Regions from separate parts of the Homo sapiens genome. Here region 2 is linked to region 1. The links come from fine-mapping of genetic effects on gene expression. Tissue or cell type: whole blood. Region 1 holds a variant in brackets; the other region holds the start of a gene. All regions are shown on one strand. Distances are from middle to middle.

The links. PIP is the estimated chance that this variant, and not a neighbour inherited with it, causes the effect.
Region 2: it holds the start of MEG3, and the variant in region 1 is fine-mapped to the expression of MEG3 in whole blood (TOPMed, PIP above 0.99).

The regions. Positions count from the first base shown.
Region 1 is chr14:100,675,424-100,683,524 of GRCh38, reverse strand. No RefSeq gene overlaps it. Among named protein-coding and RNA genes, the nearest start is that of LINC00523, 22 kb to the right of the region's middle. RefSeq lists enhancers at 2,408-3,001, 3,596-4,189. The variant C/T (reference allele first, on the strand shown) is at 4,796.
Region 2 is chr14:100,822,759-100,830,859 of GRCh38, reverse strand. It overlaps MEG3 (maternally expressed 3), which reads right to left and starts at 4,742. Exons shown (of 10, transcript NR_190993.1): 1 at 4,643-4,742; 2 at 2,044-2,152; 3 at 1,111-1,826. RefSeq lists enhancers at 1-207, 6,442-7,142.

The DNA of each region.
Region 1 (8,101 bases):
CCCGGGTTCAAGCGATTCTTCTGCCTCAGCCTCCTGAGTAGCTGGGATTACAGGCATGTACCACCACGCCCGGCTAATTTTGTATTTTTAGCAGGGGTGGGGTTTCACCATGTTGGTCAGGCTGGTCTCGAACTCCCGACCTCAGGTGATCCGCCCGCCTCGGCCTCCCAAAGTGCTGGGATTACAGGCGTGAACCACCGCACCCAGCCTAAATCTTGATTTTTTAATTGTAGTAAAAGAATCTTTACCATCTTCACCATTTTTAAGTGTACATTTCAGTGGTATTAAGTACATTTCCACTGGTGTGCAATCATCACCACTGTCTGTCTCCAGAACAACTTTCGTCCTGCAAAACTGAAACCCCAAAAGATTAAACACTAACTCCCTATTCCCTGTCCCCCAGCCCTGGCAGCCTCCATCCTACTTTCTGTCTCTATGATTTTGACTCCTTCACATAAAGGGAATCATATTTAACTTTTTGTGACAGGCTTATTTCACCCAACATAATGTCCTCAAGTTCACCCATGTTGTAGCCTGGGCCAGCATTTCCTTCCTTTTCAGGGCTGAATAGTATTCCATCGTGTGGACTGACCACATTTTGTTTCTCCATCCACCCTTCAGTGGCCACTCAGCTGTGTCCACCTTCTGGCTACTGTGTGTGATGCTGCTATGATCATGTGTGCACAGATAGGAAGCATATCTTCAGAGTGTGTGTGGAGTTGGGAGGGTCCAGCTTCTCTTCAACCCTTGGGAGAGGCTTCCAGAGGAGAAACGGAGCTGCCATGGGCAATGTGGGCAGAGTTAGGAGGAGGTGGGCTCTGGCTCTCCCTGTTCCTTCCCTCTGGTCCTGGAAGCCTCTCTTTGAGGCCAGCTGAAGGAAGACCCTTGCAAAGGGAGAGACTGGCCTCTGTGTCCAGTTGGAAGACCCTGGCAGCGTCAACATGCTCCAGGTCCATATGGCCCCTCCTTCCCATAGTCAGGCAGCAGAAGACCCTTTCATCAGGATTCAGGGGGCGCGGGCCTCCAGGCTCACTTTCACGTAGCCACAGCCCCACTTACAGATGGAAAACCAAAGCCGTGGTCCTACTGGAGGCTGGCCCGCCCCTGCCAGCCCCTCTGTGGTTCCCAGCCCCTCCAGCACGTTGAGCAGAGACAGCTGCCAAGAGACTTGGGTAACAGATGATTCCTCAGACCTGGGCACTTTTCATGTGATTGAATGCACACTTACAGAAGGGCCAGCTCTGAGTCTGCCAAGGGGCAGGCCCATACTTCAACTCCCCAAGGCTCGTCCAGACTGAGTGCTAAGTCTCCATCAGAAGCTATGAGACTCTGGCCACCTACTTCGGGGACAGAAAAACCTGCCTGTGGGGACCTTTGGCGTCCAGTCCTCTCCACAACCCGGAGCACACGGCACGTTCCCATTGGCGCTTTCACAGTGCAGATGAGCAAGCCGAGGCCCAGACAGCTTGCACCATGATGAGCAGGGTATGGGGAATGAACTCAGCTCCGGGGGGCAGCAGCGTCCCCTCCACAACCACAGCTGCCTCCCCAGGAGTCCATCAAAGTCCTGCAGAGCCCCCGGAGCCCCCCACAGACAATCCCTGGCAGGGGACGGAGTGAACCTTCTCTCCTTGGAGTGCCCCTGTGAGCATCAGGGTTACGGGGCAGGAGGCAGATCCCCGCCCACCCTCCCCTCAGCTCAGCCTGTCCTCCCCATCTTCTCATAGCTGCTCACACCCAGTGCCACTGCCCCCCGCCAGCTTCTACCCCCACTCCCAAGGATGCCAAGGACCCAGGTTACCAGGCCGATGACACCCCTCCCGGCTCCTGTCGTGGCCACCCCAGGCAGCCGACTGGTCCCTCCTGCTGAAACACCTCTTCCTGTGGCTTTGGGACCCGAGTCCCCCTCCTCTTTGAAGACCCCTTCCCAGACTTTCTCCAAAGGCCTGGCTCTTGCCCTTGCCTCCTAAAGCTGCCACTCTGAGGGCCAGTCCTGGCTCCATGCCCTCCCCTCCTGCCATGCTACTGGTGGCCTCATCCTCCTACCACTGAAGACCCCATGTGCCCAAGGCTCTTACGTGCCCAAATCCCAGCTCATACCCAGAGGCCCACCCCAGAATCACAAACCCAACGTCCCTCTCTCCTGAAAGCATCAGCCTCCACGTGTGTGTCCCCCATCTCCCACCTTCTTGAAAATTCTGCCACAACCCACGCACTCCTTCAGCCCACTGCCCCACCCATGCCCCCTCGCTTCTGCTCCAGGCACTCTCCACATCAGCCCCTCCGGTCCCCAGCGGGCTGCTCAGGGACGTGTTTGCATCATGGACCCTTCTGCCTGGAGCCTGCTGTTTCCTGCAGCCGGGGTGCCCCCTTGCTACCCTGGCCCACGTTCGGACGAGAAGCCAGATGCGGACTCCGTGTTGCTCCCTCTCAGGTCCCAGTCAGAGCCTGTGATATCACTGTCCAATCACATGCCGTGTCCCCCGGGGGCCCTCTGGGATACAGAAGTGTCAGTTATCTCTGTGTCCCTAATGGTGGGACAGGAAGGGCATTCAGGCCCACGCAAAGGCCTGCGCTCAGCAGCAGGAGTGCAGAGACAGCTCACTGGCAGCAGGAGGGCGTGGGGCTGCTGGGGCACGGTAGCTGGGGCTGAGGGCCTCTTCCGGTCCCTCGAGGGAGGAGCATAGTCTTTATCCAGGGGGCCACAGGGGCATGGTCACGTCTGAAGCCTTAGGAAAGGTCTGAGTAGAGGCAGGAAGTGGCCTCTGGCCGAGATCGCCTTTGCCTGGCCTCAAGGCCATCCGCTTTCCCACAAGACTCTTGGCCATGGTTGTTCAGGCCACTGTGAGCTTTTTTATGAGGCTGGAGGTTTGTAAAACTTATTAGTTGGTGGAAACTTGCGGGCTGCCGGCCAGCCCTCTGTGGTGGTGGCAGAACCCTGCCCGCAGGACACCCACGTGGCCTGTGACAATGGGGGGAGGCGGAGGGAAGGGGACCCCAGTTCAGGGGTGGTCATCCTCGGCTTCCCACAGCCAGGCGTTCTCAGCCGGTACTGGAGGGAGGGGCTGTCGCCTCGCACCCACCGGTCCTCAGGACACTCGAACCAGGGTTGTGACCACTTGGGAGCCTCTGGGTTGGAGATCAGGCTGGTGGCAGTGCAGGAAGGGAGGACCATCCCCAAACAGCGTGGCCTTTACCACAAAGGAGCCACCCTGGGTTGTCTCCTGGACACGGGTTCAAATCCCTGGTCTGCAGCCACCTAGCCATGTGGCTTGGGACAACAGCAGTAGAATTCCTGGTAAACACCCACTGGTCCCAGGCTCTGAGCTGAGCTCTCACATGAACCAAGTCAGTTGTCAACAGCCTGGAAGGGGACCACCATTATCATCTCCTCTCTAAGTCACATTCTCCTCTGCAAGAGAAGAAGAGTGTGGCGCCCACTTTCTCATGTCACAAGAGAGACACTCGTCAGCACCTGGTGCACATTAGCCGCCTGTGGACACAAGCTCTTTCCTTTCCCACCACAAGGCCCTCCTGGAGCTGGCCGCCTCCTCTGCCTTGCTGGGGAGTTCCCTCAGCAGGAAGGAATGTGCAGGCCCAGCGATCTCTGGAAACACCCGGAGTCTGCAGAACGTGCTGGACGCGGTCAGCTGTGTGAGACCTTGGCCCCCAGGCCTCTGGATGCACTGGATTCCCTGGAACAGTTAGCAGGACACAGGGCAAAGGCCTTTCTCCTTCTGTCGGTAATCAAGACCATCTGAGGACCCACGGGGCGCTCACGTTCTACCTTCCCTGGCTTGGCTGAGGGTTGAGAGGGCCTCGGGAAGGGTGGAGGGAGGAGGGAGAATGGACATAGGCCCATCTTTCGGCCTAGATGGAGGAACCGTGTGCTGGCTGGGCAGGCTGCTGGCAGAGGTCAGGAGGGCTCTTCCCTGAGCCCTGCCATCCATGAACTGTGTAACTTTGATCCAGGCCTTGTCCCTCTGGGCCTCAGTTTCCCCAAGCTGGATGTGTCGTCCCCCTGCTTCATTCACAATTACCACCAGAAGGACCAACACCACCCTGCAAGACTCAATGGGGTGATGGATCAATCAGAAAAAAAAACAACAAAAAAAAACACAGATCGCCTAGGGCTTAATTAACAGGAGCATGGTATTCATAGCTGGGGAGGTGAGAGTCGGCTGCAGACTGTACCTAGGCACTAACACTCAGTTCTGGGAGAAAATGACAACTGATGCCTGTTCAGGAGAGGGCACTGCGGTGGGTCTTGCAAGGAACAGATAGGAGAAGCCCTGAGACTTGGTTTGGAGGAAAGAGGCCCAGAAGGTCATGACTGCCACCTCCAGATGCGCTGTGGCCCCGGAGCAGTACTAGAAAGCCCTTTCCTAGCTATGAGACCTCCTCCACAAAGGAATGCACGTTCAATGAGGTAGTGAGCTCTCTAGTCCCGGAGGTAAGCAAGTCTCTGGGTGGCATCTGGGACCTTGTGGATGCCCCAGCAGCCTGGCTGGGCTTACCCTGAGGGGCTAAAGGGAGTGGTTGGGCCCTTCGGCCCCGTGGTTCATGAAGCCTGTAGTGTTCCTCTTGGGGAAGGGGCCACTGATGTTTCCCAGCCATGGAAGTGCCTGGTAGACCTCACAGATGCTTTGATGGTCCAAACAGGTGCCTCTGAATGCCACATCTTTGGGCTCCAGGCTGAGAATGCAGGGGAGGGGACTTCTTGCCCCCTGTCCAGGCCTCAGATCCCTCCTGGCTTTCCTGCTCCAGCCCAGCAGCTCACCAGACCCAGCGTCAC[C/T]AACATAGCGTGGCTCTTAAGACCTTGCCGGCCACCTCCCCACAGCATTCCTGCCTCCACCCTCCTCCAGATGCTGTGCTTTGCTGGCACAGGGCCCACTGTCCATGCTCCCTCTACCCACCCCCCTTCCCGAGGAGCCCGAGCTCTCCCAGCACCCTTCAAGCCACCCCTGGGTCCCTCGGCATGAGCCTTGCCCAGCCGCTGTTTCCTGGCCTGGGGGTATGGGTTTGCCCAGCTGTGGCTGCCACCTCCAGGACCCCATGGATGGGCAGGAGGATCCATCCACCCAGAAGGCTGCATCTCCCTCCTCAGGGCCACACAAGGAAGTTAGGGCGGAGCAGACCGGGGCCTCTCTGGCTGGGGCCCTGGGCCCCCAGCTCAGCGTCCCCTGCTCCCCTGGCCCCCACCCCTGCCCAGCTGCCGGGGGCCTAATCCAGGCCTGTGGGAAGAGGCCCTGGGTGGAGGCGGACGTGATAAGGAAGCCGCTGGGATGCCTGGATGCTGCAGATGTGGCTCTGGGCTCCTGCCTCAGGCGGATTTGACGAACTTGCTAAACTGCAATTCTCCATGGCTTAGGGGAGCTGGGCCCGGGCCAGCGCATGCATTATCCTCAGCAGCTGCGGGCTGTGGCGAGCCAAGGGGCGGAGGCCTGGCCAGGCAGAGGCTCCGAGGCCAGCCAGGCCTCCTAACCCTCCACCCTGGGACCCAGCGAGTTTGCGGGGGGCCATTCCCAGAGGTGCCGAAAGGGGCTCACAGATGCCAGTACCATGAAGGCCCAACTAACAAAGGATTTCCAACCAGAAAATATATTTCCCAGGATTCTGTAGACCAGAGTGGGGTGAAAGACAGCTTTGTGCTAGAGGCATGCGGCCAATGAGTGGGTACTGGAAGTTGGACCCCGCTGTCTCCACTGGGGGCTGCACCCGCCGTGCTCTGGGCTGGGCCGCTTACAGGCACTTCCTCCAGGCTAGGCATGACCTTGACATTGCCTGGAGTTTCCGGTTCTGGGGGAAGGAAGGGGCCTCTCAAACGGCCAGGCCAGGCAGAAGCACAGGCTTGGGCTTCTGTGTCAGGGAGGTGGGAGCTGTGCTGCTGCGCTCCCCGGGGCACCCAGCACCAGCAGCATGCCCGGTGGAAGGAGTATGGGCTTCACAACTTCCAAGCCCTCCGGGGCAGGTTCCAGGTGGACACCACAGCTGTCAGCCTGGGTTGCCCCCTGGCGTGAGGCTCACAGGTTCTGTGGATGTCATCAGACTGGCAGAGTTAGTGCTCCTCAAGAAATGGAGGCTGTCACCTCACCCAGTGGGGCGGCAAGAGCTCCAGGAAGCCACCATGTGGATAAGGGTGGGCGCAGAGCAGGCTTGAGGAGGGAGGCTGGGCTGGGTCTTCACCCTAGCGTCTGTTTTGACACTGGAGCCTCGAGCGGAATTCTGTACTCTAGACAATAAATTTCCACACACATAAGCAGAGAGCAGCGTTTCTGCTTCCAGCTGCCTCGTCTCCTAGAATAGCTCTTTTTTTTTTTTTTAAGAGGGAGTTTCACTCTTGTTGCCCAGGCTGAAGTGCAGTGGCGCGATCTTGGCTTACCTCAACCTCCACCTCCTGGGTTCAAGCGATTCTCCTGCCTCAGCCTCCCGAGTAGCTGGGATTACAGGCACCTGCCCCCATGCCCAGCTACTTTTGTATTTTTAGTAGAGACAGGGTTTCTCCATGTTAGTCAGGCTGGTCTCCGACTCCCGACCTCAGGTGATCCACCCGCCTCAGCCTCCCAAAGTGCTGGGATTACAGGCATGAGCCACCGCACCCAGCCAAATAGCTGTCTTTTAATTACACAGAAAGATCACCAGGAAAAAAGGGAAGAAAACAAGCCAGAGTCACTAGAAACTCATCTCCATGCCTAGAACCTCACAACAAAGTAGCTGAGAGGCCAGGCAGGTCCAGGCGGGCGCTCCAGCCAGGCAGGAGCTTGAGGGGCGGGGTGTGGGGGCCACAGTCACGGTACCTCCACCCGCAGGGTGGGTTGATAGATTGTGGGGACTGTGAGCACCTTCCTTCCATATGGCTGAGCACCCATATGGGACTTGGCACTGGGAACAGCAAGCCAGCAGCTCCAGCACCCTGTAAAGTCCAGGGGAGGGGGGCACATTTGAACCCATTAATCACACAAATTTTGCATCGCAGTGTGAGATGCAGGTGAGTGCTGCAGGCCTGGAGTAGGGGAGTGTCTCCGTCAGAGAAACCATGGAAGGCTTCCCAGAGGAAGCAGCGCTGGAGCTTTGAGGAAAAGTGGGGAGTAACCAGGGAGCCTCTTCAGAGTCCAAGTCACTCTTCAGAATGACCCGGGCGCAAAAGACTACACCCAAAGAAAAGCTGGCTGCGTTCCCAGCCAGCTGAACTGCGGGCCGCCTGCCTCCTCATCTGCGTTCCTGCCTCCCCACCTTTGTTTAGGCCATTCCCCCACCCAGAATGCCTTTCCAGGACAGAGCTTCTCCAACCTTAGTTCTGACTTTCTAAGTCACAGAGAACCACAGAGAGGCCTCCTCCAGGGACACCACCTGAGCCTCAGCACTTTGTAGCTGCCTCTTCATCTCAGGCCAGTGTGAGCCGGGGTGAGGGCTCCAGCCCCCTTGGAGCGCCCGGCATCAACCCCGTGTGCCGGGCAAGCTCCAGAAGTGTGTTGGAAGGCAGGGTCGATATTGCCGGCTTTGGGGGGATGAGTCGATAACGATTGAAAGTGAGCAAAATATTCTCCTTTCTCTCCCTGTAAGGGGAATTTGAAAATCGGATTTACTGGTTAAATTAACAGAATGTGCATTCTCAGTTCAGCCCCACCCCTGGGACTAGTCACTTACTTAAAAATACATATTAAAAATACAGTGAATCATCTCCACTATGTAAAAACAACAAAACGTGCATGCACCTAGCCATGGGGCAAAACCCATAACAAAAACCCCCACCCTGGTCATTGGCCTGTGGCAGGGCCTTATGGGGTCTCAATTTCCTTCTTTGTGTTCATGTATTTCCCACCTATTTCACAGTGAACTGATTCCTTTTAAGGTAAAGAGAAAAGATAACATTTTAAAATAAAAGAATAAGGTATCAATATCATTAATTGCAGTTTTAATGGTAAGAAGTGCCCCCAGCTCATTTCTCCATCCCCACTTTGAAAGTGACAGGGTCTCAGGCAGCCCTGTTTCCAGGCAGACGTTTCTGCACATGGACGCACACACGCAGGCAGGACGTTTGGTCTCCTGCTCTGTTCACTTAACATTAAAGATAAGCATCTCTCCCCAACAAGACTTCATA
Region 2 (8,101 bases), 150 kb before region 1:
AATCCAATCAGCCCCTTTCAGAGGCTGGGCAGCTATTGTCTACACTGAGCTGGGCTTCTCTAAAGCAGCCCAAGTTGTTTTTGTCTTGTCCGGACAAAACTGGTTGGCTTAAAACGGGACGAAAGAAATTCCTGGTCAAATGAGGACCCCAATTAGGTTCCAAGAGACTGTTTTCATTATCTTTGTATCAGATACCTAGCCTGGTGCACTGGGCAGATTGTCGGTGCCCCAGAAAATGTTTGTTGAATTAATTCATTTTTATTTATTCTGGAATTTCTTAATTGAACACAAACACACACAGCACCTACTGAGTGCTGTTCTCACTAAGGGAGAATTGGGCTGGACATGTGAGCAAGGAGGGACAGCCTCGGGTGCTTGAGTAGCTCACACTTTCCACAGCAATTTACAAAGCACTTTCATAGTAGTTACAGCATTTGGTCTTCAAAAGCGCCCTGTGGGGTAGATACACGAGGGGGTGTGTGTGTGTGTGTGTGTGTGTGTGTGTGTGTGTGTGTTTTAATCTCCATTTAGACCATGAAAGAAACTGAAACTTAGAGTAGTTAAGCGACTTGTTTAAGGTCACACTGTTATTAAAAGGTGAAGCCAGCACATGGTACCAGCACTGGGGCCACCCAGACCCCCAAGACCACCCCAGGCAGCTGGGATTTCAAACAGACTGTCCCATTGTCAAACATTTGGTTTGAAATAAAAGGACTCTTAGTATAACTCTGGGCCAGAGGGGAAGAAGGGGTGAGGGCAGCTAGCGTGGCACCCTGGGTCCAACTCCAACCCCTTCTGTTGCCAGCAATGTGACCAAATACTTACACCTCCCAGCAAGTTTCTGTTTCTTTAATGTAAATGTAAGCCCTACCCCATGGGACAGAGAGTTCAGTCCTCACGGGTCCTCTCTCCCTTTCAGCTTCTTTAAATTACAAAAATCAACACTACCAAATGCATCCTCACCTGGAAATGAGGCTGCCTCGTTTACATACACATATTACATAAAAATCACATGTTCATATCACATAGAAAGTGCTCTGGAAATGGCCACATGCATAATTCGTGTTCTTACTCAAGTCAGCCCGTCGATGGTCTCTGCAAAGCCCCTACCTGATGCAAGGAGAGCCCGTGGACAAGGGCTGCCTGGAGTGCTGTTGGAGAATAAATAAGACAAGTAAGACAAGCAAGAGGGGTGGGAAGGGACTGACCTGTCAAACCTTTTCAACAAACATTTGCTGATCACCTCCTCTATGCCAGATCCTGCCTGAGGCCTCTTTTATCTCATTTAATTCTCACAACAACCCTAGGAGGTTGCTCTCATCGACCCCATTCCCCCAGAAAAGGATAGGAAGATCTTCAGAGAGGTCGGGCGTGCCTTTGGTGATTCAGTAGCATGCTCATTCCAGAAGCCCACCCAGGGCCTTGGAGTTGCCAGCAGGATGCTGGCCAAGCCCTTGGCCCAGGTCCCCCTCCTGAGAATTTCCCAAAGGGATCCTTCCATTCAGGACATCATAAGGGTGATGACAGAGTCAGTCGACAAAGACTGACACCCCCTTGGGGAGGGAAACACTCCAGTTTGCTAGCAGGTGAACACAAGCAAAGACTTATAGGAAAGTACTCATAGAGTCAAAGTATGAGCATAGCAAAGGTCAGGGCTTAATGCCCAATGCCCCCTCACTAGGGCATTGGTTTAAGTCTTTAGGTAAGAGGGACAGCTGGCTGGTCAGTTCCGGTCCTCTTCATCCTTTGCCATCCTGGTCCTGGGGGTCAGTGAGTGGCTGCTTTGTATGTTGGTGGGATCCAGGAAACCGTGCTCCTAGTGCCCTCTGCAATTGATCAAAGGTTAGAGAACCTGCTTAAAAGCCCAAGCCTAGATCATAATTACAGTTTAAGTTCATTAATTACAATTAAAGCTGATTAGTTAAAATTTAAAATTGTCTTTTAATTGCTAGTGGGTCTGGGGGTGGTGCAAGGATGGTGGTGGGGTTGGGAGATTCTGCCCGCCACGTTGGTTATGAAATGATAGCAGGAGGGTTGAAGTACCGTGAGGTGTAGATGGGCAGCAGGCCCCTTGGCAGCAGCTCAGCATGGAGAGGAGGTGGTCCTTGAAGACAAGGAGGTGGACGGATGATGTCATCCCTGAGGAGAGACCCTATGGCATGGGAGGGGGGCAGGTTAGAAACCATCTTCGTGACCTCTAACGGCCAGCACCGGAACAGCAGAGAGCAAAAGGGGGCAGGCAGAGGGAAAGGCAGGGAGGAGTGGCAAAGGGGAGGACTGAGGAAGGCAGTAGGGAGGGGCTGGGAGGGAAGAGGGAGGGGTATGGAGGGAGGAAGGAGGGGGGCAGGGAGAGGGGAGGAGAGAAGGGGAGGGGAAAAGAGAGATGAGGAAAATGAGGGGGGAAGAGGGAGGAGGGAAGAGGAAAGAGGGAGGAGGGAGAAGAAAAATAGGAGGGGGAGGAGGGACGAGGAAATGAGAAAGGGTGGAGGGAGAGGAGAAATGGGAGGTGGAGGAGAGGAGTGGGAGGGGGTAAGGATGATTTGACTGACAGGTCACAAGTGTTAGCTGTGTGCGTGTGCGCAACTCAAAACCCAAGGTAGCGGGGCTGGCACACACCGCTAGGGGGCGCGCGGCCCGCACCCGTAACCCAGGAGTGCAGCAGCCACCTGCGGCGCCCCGGCCCGCGCCCGGCGGGCCTGGATGGACAGGGGGTGCCCAACAGGTCTCAGGCTAGGAAGGGCTCCACAGCCCACCCCAGGCCACCGCGCCAGGTCGCTACGCCCCCTGGACGCCTCTCCAGCCACCACCAGCCAGAGCCCACCTGTGGCTGCGGCGCAGCGCCTCCCGCCCGCACCAGGCGCCTCCTGCGCCCCCAGCCACCGGGCCCCAGCCCCAGAGGAAGGTGGGCCACCCAGCGGACCTGCGCCAGGCCCCTCTGGAGCGCCGCTCCGCCTGCTACAGGGAAAAGCAGAAATCCCGACTCCCACCTTCGTCAATCCAATTAAACACACGTTCACTAAAGTCAGAAAGACCCAGTCCTCCAGGCACCGCTGTCACGCATGTGGGTGGTCTCGGAACGAGAGACAGAACCTGTGACATCGCTGGAAAGTAACGCAAAGGGGGCCACCACGCCGCTCCCCGCCTTCGCCCCCAGGCATCAACATCACGCCTCCAAAGTCGTGCCTCCCTCCTTCGCCACAACAACAATTTCTAGCCCCCGCACGATGGCCCCTCACTGACCTTGTCACAGCCTCTCTCTCCATCCTGCTCAAATGAGCCACACCTTCCTAAGACCCCCGAAACCAAAAACCACTGGAAATCAACTAACGTGCCTCTGTGCGCCTCCACAACACCCGAAGCCACGGCGCAAAGGCCGACCCCGGCCTCTGCGGCCACTCCGCAGTGAATCCGGGGGGTCTCAAAACTGTTCCCTCTTGGGTAAACGAATCCAGGATCCTCCAGTAGATCCCGCGCCCGACCCCCTCCATCAGGAGAACAAAGGCCACCTCCCCTCCCCACCCCGCCCCCCAAAATTCCGCAGTGCCGCCAGCGCCCTCTCGCGGCCAGCCAGGAAACCTTCCAGAAACCTGCCACGTAGCCACCCGCCTGCGCCCCCACCAGGCCCGCCGGCCCAGGGTGGGAGGGGGCGGCCTGGGGGGGCTTGACTCTGACAAAGGAAATGGCAAAAGGCGATTTGACCAAAAGTCCAAGACTGCAACATGTCAGGATTTTCGAGCGACCACCACGCAACGCTCTGAAGACCCCCGCGGCACCCCATCCCCAGCTCCCAGCGTCCAGACCCCAGCAACACACCCCCTTTTCTGCATTTCTCTCCTCCCTCTTCCCAGACCCAAGGACACGGCCTTCTCTCCTCCCCAACCCACCCCCTGCATCTATTCTCCCAGTGCCCCCAATCCCACGACCCCCCTTCGGCAAGGACTGATCCTAGGGGGCTACTGGCAGGTTTGCACTTGGGCGCCATCTCTCTCCACTGTGAAAGTGGCTGATCAGGGCAGAACCAGATGATATCGGGTAGAAATTTTACTCCACATTTTGCCTGGGGTCCACACTGCACTAAACCTGTGTATTTGGATTCGGAAAACCTCGCGAAGAGGAACCTCCACTCCTCCCGCCCACGATCCACCAAAAACCTGGCCAACAGCTGGCGAGGCAAATATGCCCGGGAGACCCTTCTATTCGGGTGCTTCCCCCCCTAATTCATGGGGCACGCAGAAGGCATCGCCGCCATATCTCCCACTATTAACGCGATTCTAGAGGCGGCTTCTAATACAGGAAATCCGGGGTTCGCCCCCCAGTGACTGCCGTATACCCGAATCCAAGAGGAGTTCCATCTGATTCCTCCCGCTCCTCTGAACTGAAGTCCCTACCACCCAGCCCACCCTTAAGGACTGGACCCTCCAGAGAGGAGCCCTGACTTCCCCCCAGGGAAATGTGCCTCAAGATTTTCTTTCTGACAAATTTTGTTGCGGACGCTCGGGGACCAGGCGAAGTGGCCGCCTCCAGCAGCAGGACCCAGGATCAGGCAGGCTCTCGGCATGTCCAGGAGGACAGAGCCCATCCCAGAAGCGGATGCCGTCTTCCTTTTGCACATCCTTTGCGGCAAGGATGGCCAACCACTCACCGGGTGAGGGATCCTCTCGTGGGCGCCCCAGCTCTCCTGAGGAGCCGCCGCCAAGGCCAGCGAGCCAAGGCGCGCTCCCTCTCTGCTCTCCGCCGTCTGCGCTAGGGGCTGGCTGGGTGGGGTTTATATGGAGGCGCAGAAGGGGTGGTCTCTGACGTCAGCGCATTCTGCTGCAATGCGCTCATTTCTCTAAAAGTGATTGGCCGGAAAAATGAGCCCCCCAGATTCTATGACAAATTGCTCTAGCCGCACCCAGATTGCAGCAAAGAAGGGAGGAAAAAATTCTGCCGCAGTGCCCCTGGCCGCCATGACCAACACCCTGTGGTCGCGGGTGCTTTTTCCCTGCGTGAGCCCGGCTCGCCAGGCAGGGTGAATTCAGGCACAATGTGTGGGGGGAATCGCCCCGATGGCTGGCCGTCCTCAGGCGGCCGATGGCCAAGGTGGGGCTGTCGGGGCGCAGATCCCACACCTGGCGGTTTCGGAACATCCATCGGAGGATGCGGGCTTAGCGAAAGAAAATCATGCTTTCTCTTATTGTTCAGGAAAATAAAATGCCCGGGCGACATAACTGGTTCCCAGATGTAAGCCAGAGGCTGTCACCCCCTCCCAGCCCACCCGTGCGTTTCTGACTGGTTCTCTTTGACATGGGAGACAGAGCTCCGCGTCTCCGAGTCAGAAAACCCTGGCTGTGGAGTCCCGGGCTCTGCCGCTTACAACTCATGTTCGCGGAACCCGCTATGCCCCTTCCTCTTCCACTGGGTCCGCTTCCTCCACCTTAACCAGGGGTACCCCCCACCACACACACCAGGGTTGTAATAAGAATCCAGACAGGAGCCGTGCCCTCTAAGGAAAGTACTTTTAGAGGGCGGACTGTGTCCCATGTGGAGATGCCTGAGCTACCCCTCAAAGTTGGGGTGATCCCCACACACATGCCCTTTGAAAGAGCCCCAGCGCCCCGAAAAACAGGCAGCGACACATGTTGCGCCGAGCCCTGCCGCGGCCTCGGCTCCGGAGCTGGCACATGGGAGTTAATCCCTAACAGGTGGGAGCCCTCGGCAGCTCTGCCCGGCTCTGAGTGGCAGAGCGTGCAGGGCCGTCAATCAAATGTCCTCTCGCAAAGGTCAAAATGCTGTTGAAAGGGACCGAGGATCTATCTTAGGGTGACAGGTGGGTGGCAGCCAGGAGGACAAGGATGGAGTGCTCGGTGACAGAAAGCAGGTGAGGATGAGCAAGGGGCCCCAAAGAGGACAGCAGAGAGGCCCCGCCGAGGGCATCAAGTCAGAATCGCTCCCCCGCACTTCTTTGGGGGGTTTAAGCGGCGTCAGAGGGAGCCCCCCATGCCCAACGATCCCACAAGGTGACTGTAAAGCAGACGGGAGATTCCAGGGCTGAAAAGAAGGGAGAAAGGCTATTTCTACGTCCACAGCTAATGACTAGGGAGGTGAACATTGACCGTCAGGTCACTAGAGGCGCCGAGCCTTGGGACGGCGTGTGGGGGGCTCGTTTTTTCATAAACAGGCGCACTGTTGGGGAGATAGAGACGTGGGACGTTGGGGTCCTCATGGGGCGCTGCTTTAATATGTCAGGTAACACGAAGGAGAAAGAAAACACCCCCTTTACAGCCTGTGGAGCTTGCCAGGAGCCCCAGGGACTAGAGCCCCGGAAGCAGGCCTTGCACAGCAGAAACGCCCGCACCAGCCACAGACGTCAAGAACGCTTCAAAAAATCATGGCTCCGAGCACCCGCGTCAACAGGAGAACGTTTATTAGCCACAGTATTAATAGCTAGGAAACAGCCAGAGCTGGCCGGGGCCAATCAGCAACCAGGAGCCCCTGTCGTCAGGCCCCCACGGCCAATCAGACGCCGGCAGGCCCGGTTGCTAGCCTCTCGGGGGCAGAGGCGAGGGGCACGCATTGACAAGGGGCTCGCATTCACCCGCCGCGCGTGGGAACTGTGGTGGCCGCCAGAGAGCATCCGCAGCCACGCACCCGGGGGCCCGGGAGGCTGTCGTAGACACAGTGCCAGCCCGCGTCAGCCCTGCAGCCCCACAAGGGCATGAGTTGACGTTCCGGTGGGAGCCCCAGGCCTCAGGTGGGATGCTCCTGGAGCCCCTAGAAGGAGAAACTTCCAGACACCTAATGTCCAGTCTCTCCTGTCAGGGCCTGGCGCCCCTGCGGGAAGTTGAGCCTCCCAGTGAGAAGCCAGCCTCTGCCCTATTCTGGGCCCCCTGGCTCTTGAGCCTGCTCCTTCGAGGTTCACAGTAAACCCCACTCTCCTATTTCAGGGCCTTACTGACAGCCCAAGGAAAAAGACCGTGGAAATTACGGGTTTCCTACAAAGCACCACGGGTTTGAATCCCGGCTCTGCTCCCTCCGCGCTGGGAGGCTGAGGTCCAGGCCCTCCCTCTCTGTGGGCCCCTACTTCCTCATCTGGAAAAAGGAAAGACTTGGACAAGATGGTCCCTAAGGAGCCTTCCAGTCCTACTTTGCTTGATTTGAATGTATACATCAGGCGAGTCAAATGTCTTCCAGAACATTCTGCATGACAGTAATTAGTATCAGGTGTATCCTGCAGTCCATGTGGTTACTTCATCATGCTGCTTTTCTTTCCATTGTATTTTATTTTAAACAGAACTCCATGGCAACATGTTTACCCTTCTGGCTTCCTAAAAGAAAGAAAGAAAATGATGAGGGGGGGGAGCAGGAATGCGAGGCAAAGAGAGAAAGAAAAGACTGCTGCAAACTAATCTCCACTGAACATGGTTTAACCACAATTTAAAAAAAAAATCCATATGTTTAAATGTTTTTGTTGGCTTTTCTGGAGCTCAGAACCTAACTTTTTAAATATTTATTGGTCCAAAGCAATGGAAGAAATTCTTGAAGGAGCCAAACCTATAGTAATATTTGGATCTGAACTATTTCTCAATCTGAGCAATGCTATACATGCCTTCCTCCCTCAAAAAGGCCATTCAAGGGCTCAGATTTGTATCTATAGGGGAAAACAGACAAGGAAATCCAGGTTTGAGAAATGGAGCACTTTCTCTCTGTGCATGCTGAAACCCAACTCTCCTGAAATCCTGGAGGCGAGCCAGTGTCCCAGACGCATGGCTTAGCTTGCTGCCTTTTTTTTTTTTTTCTCAGATCTAACTCAAAGCACACATTTTTCTTCTTTTTTTAATTCATACTTGAGAACCCTCAAAAGCCATGTGAGCAGCCTCCTATCCACATGTACATACTTATGGGCAAGGGGACAAACCTCCTAAGAGCCAGCCAGGAAATGAAGACAAGGTCCTCCTATACCCATCTCCCAGGCATGGGCAAATATACTCTCTTCTCAAAAAGCATACTCTGAACTTTTACAAACAGCAAACCCCAAGTGCCTACCCCTCTAAGCCGACGTCCCAGTTTTCCCCGTACCCTTGAAATTTAGCATGCACCAGAGATCTCTTGAGTTCCTCTT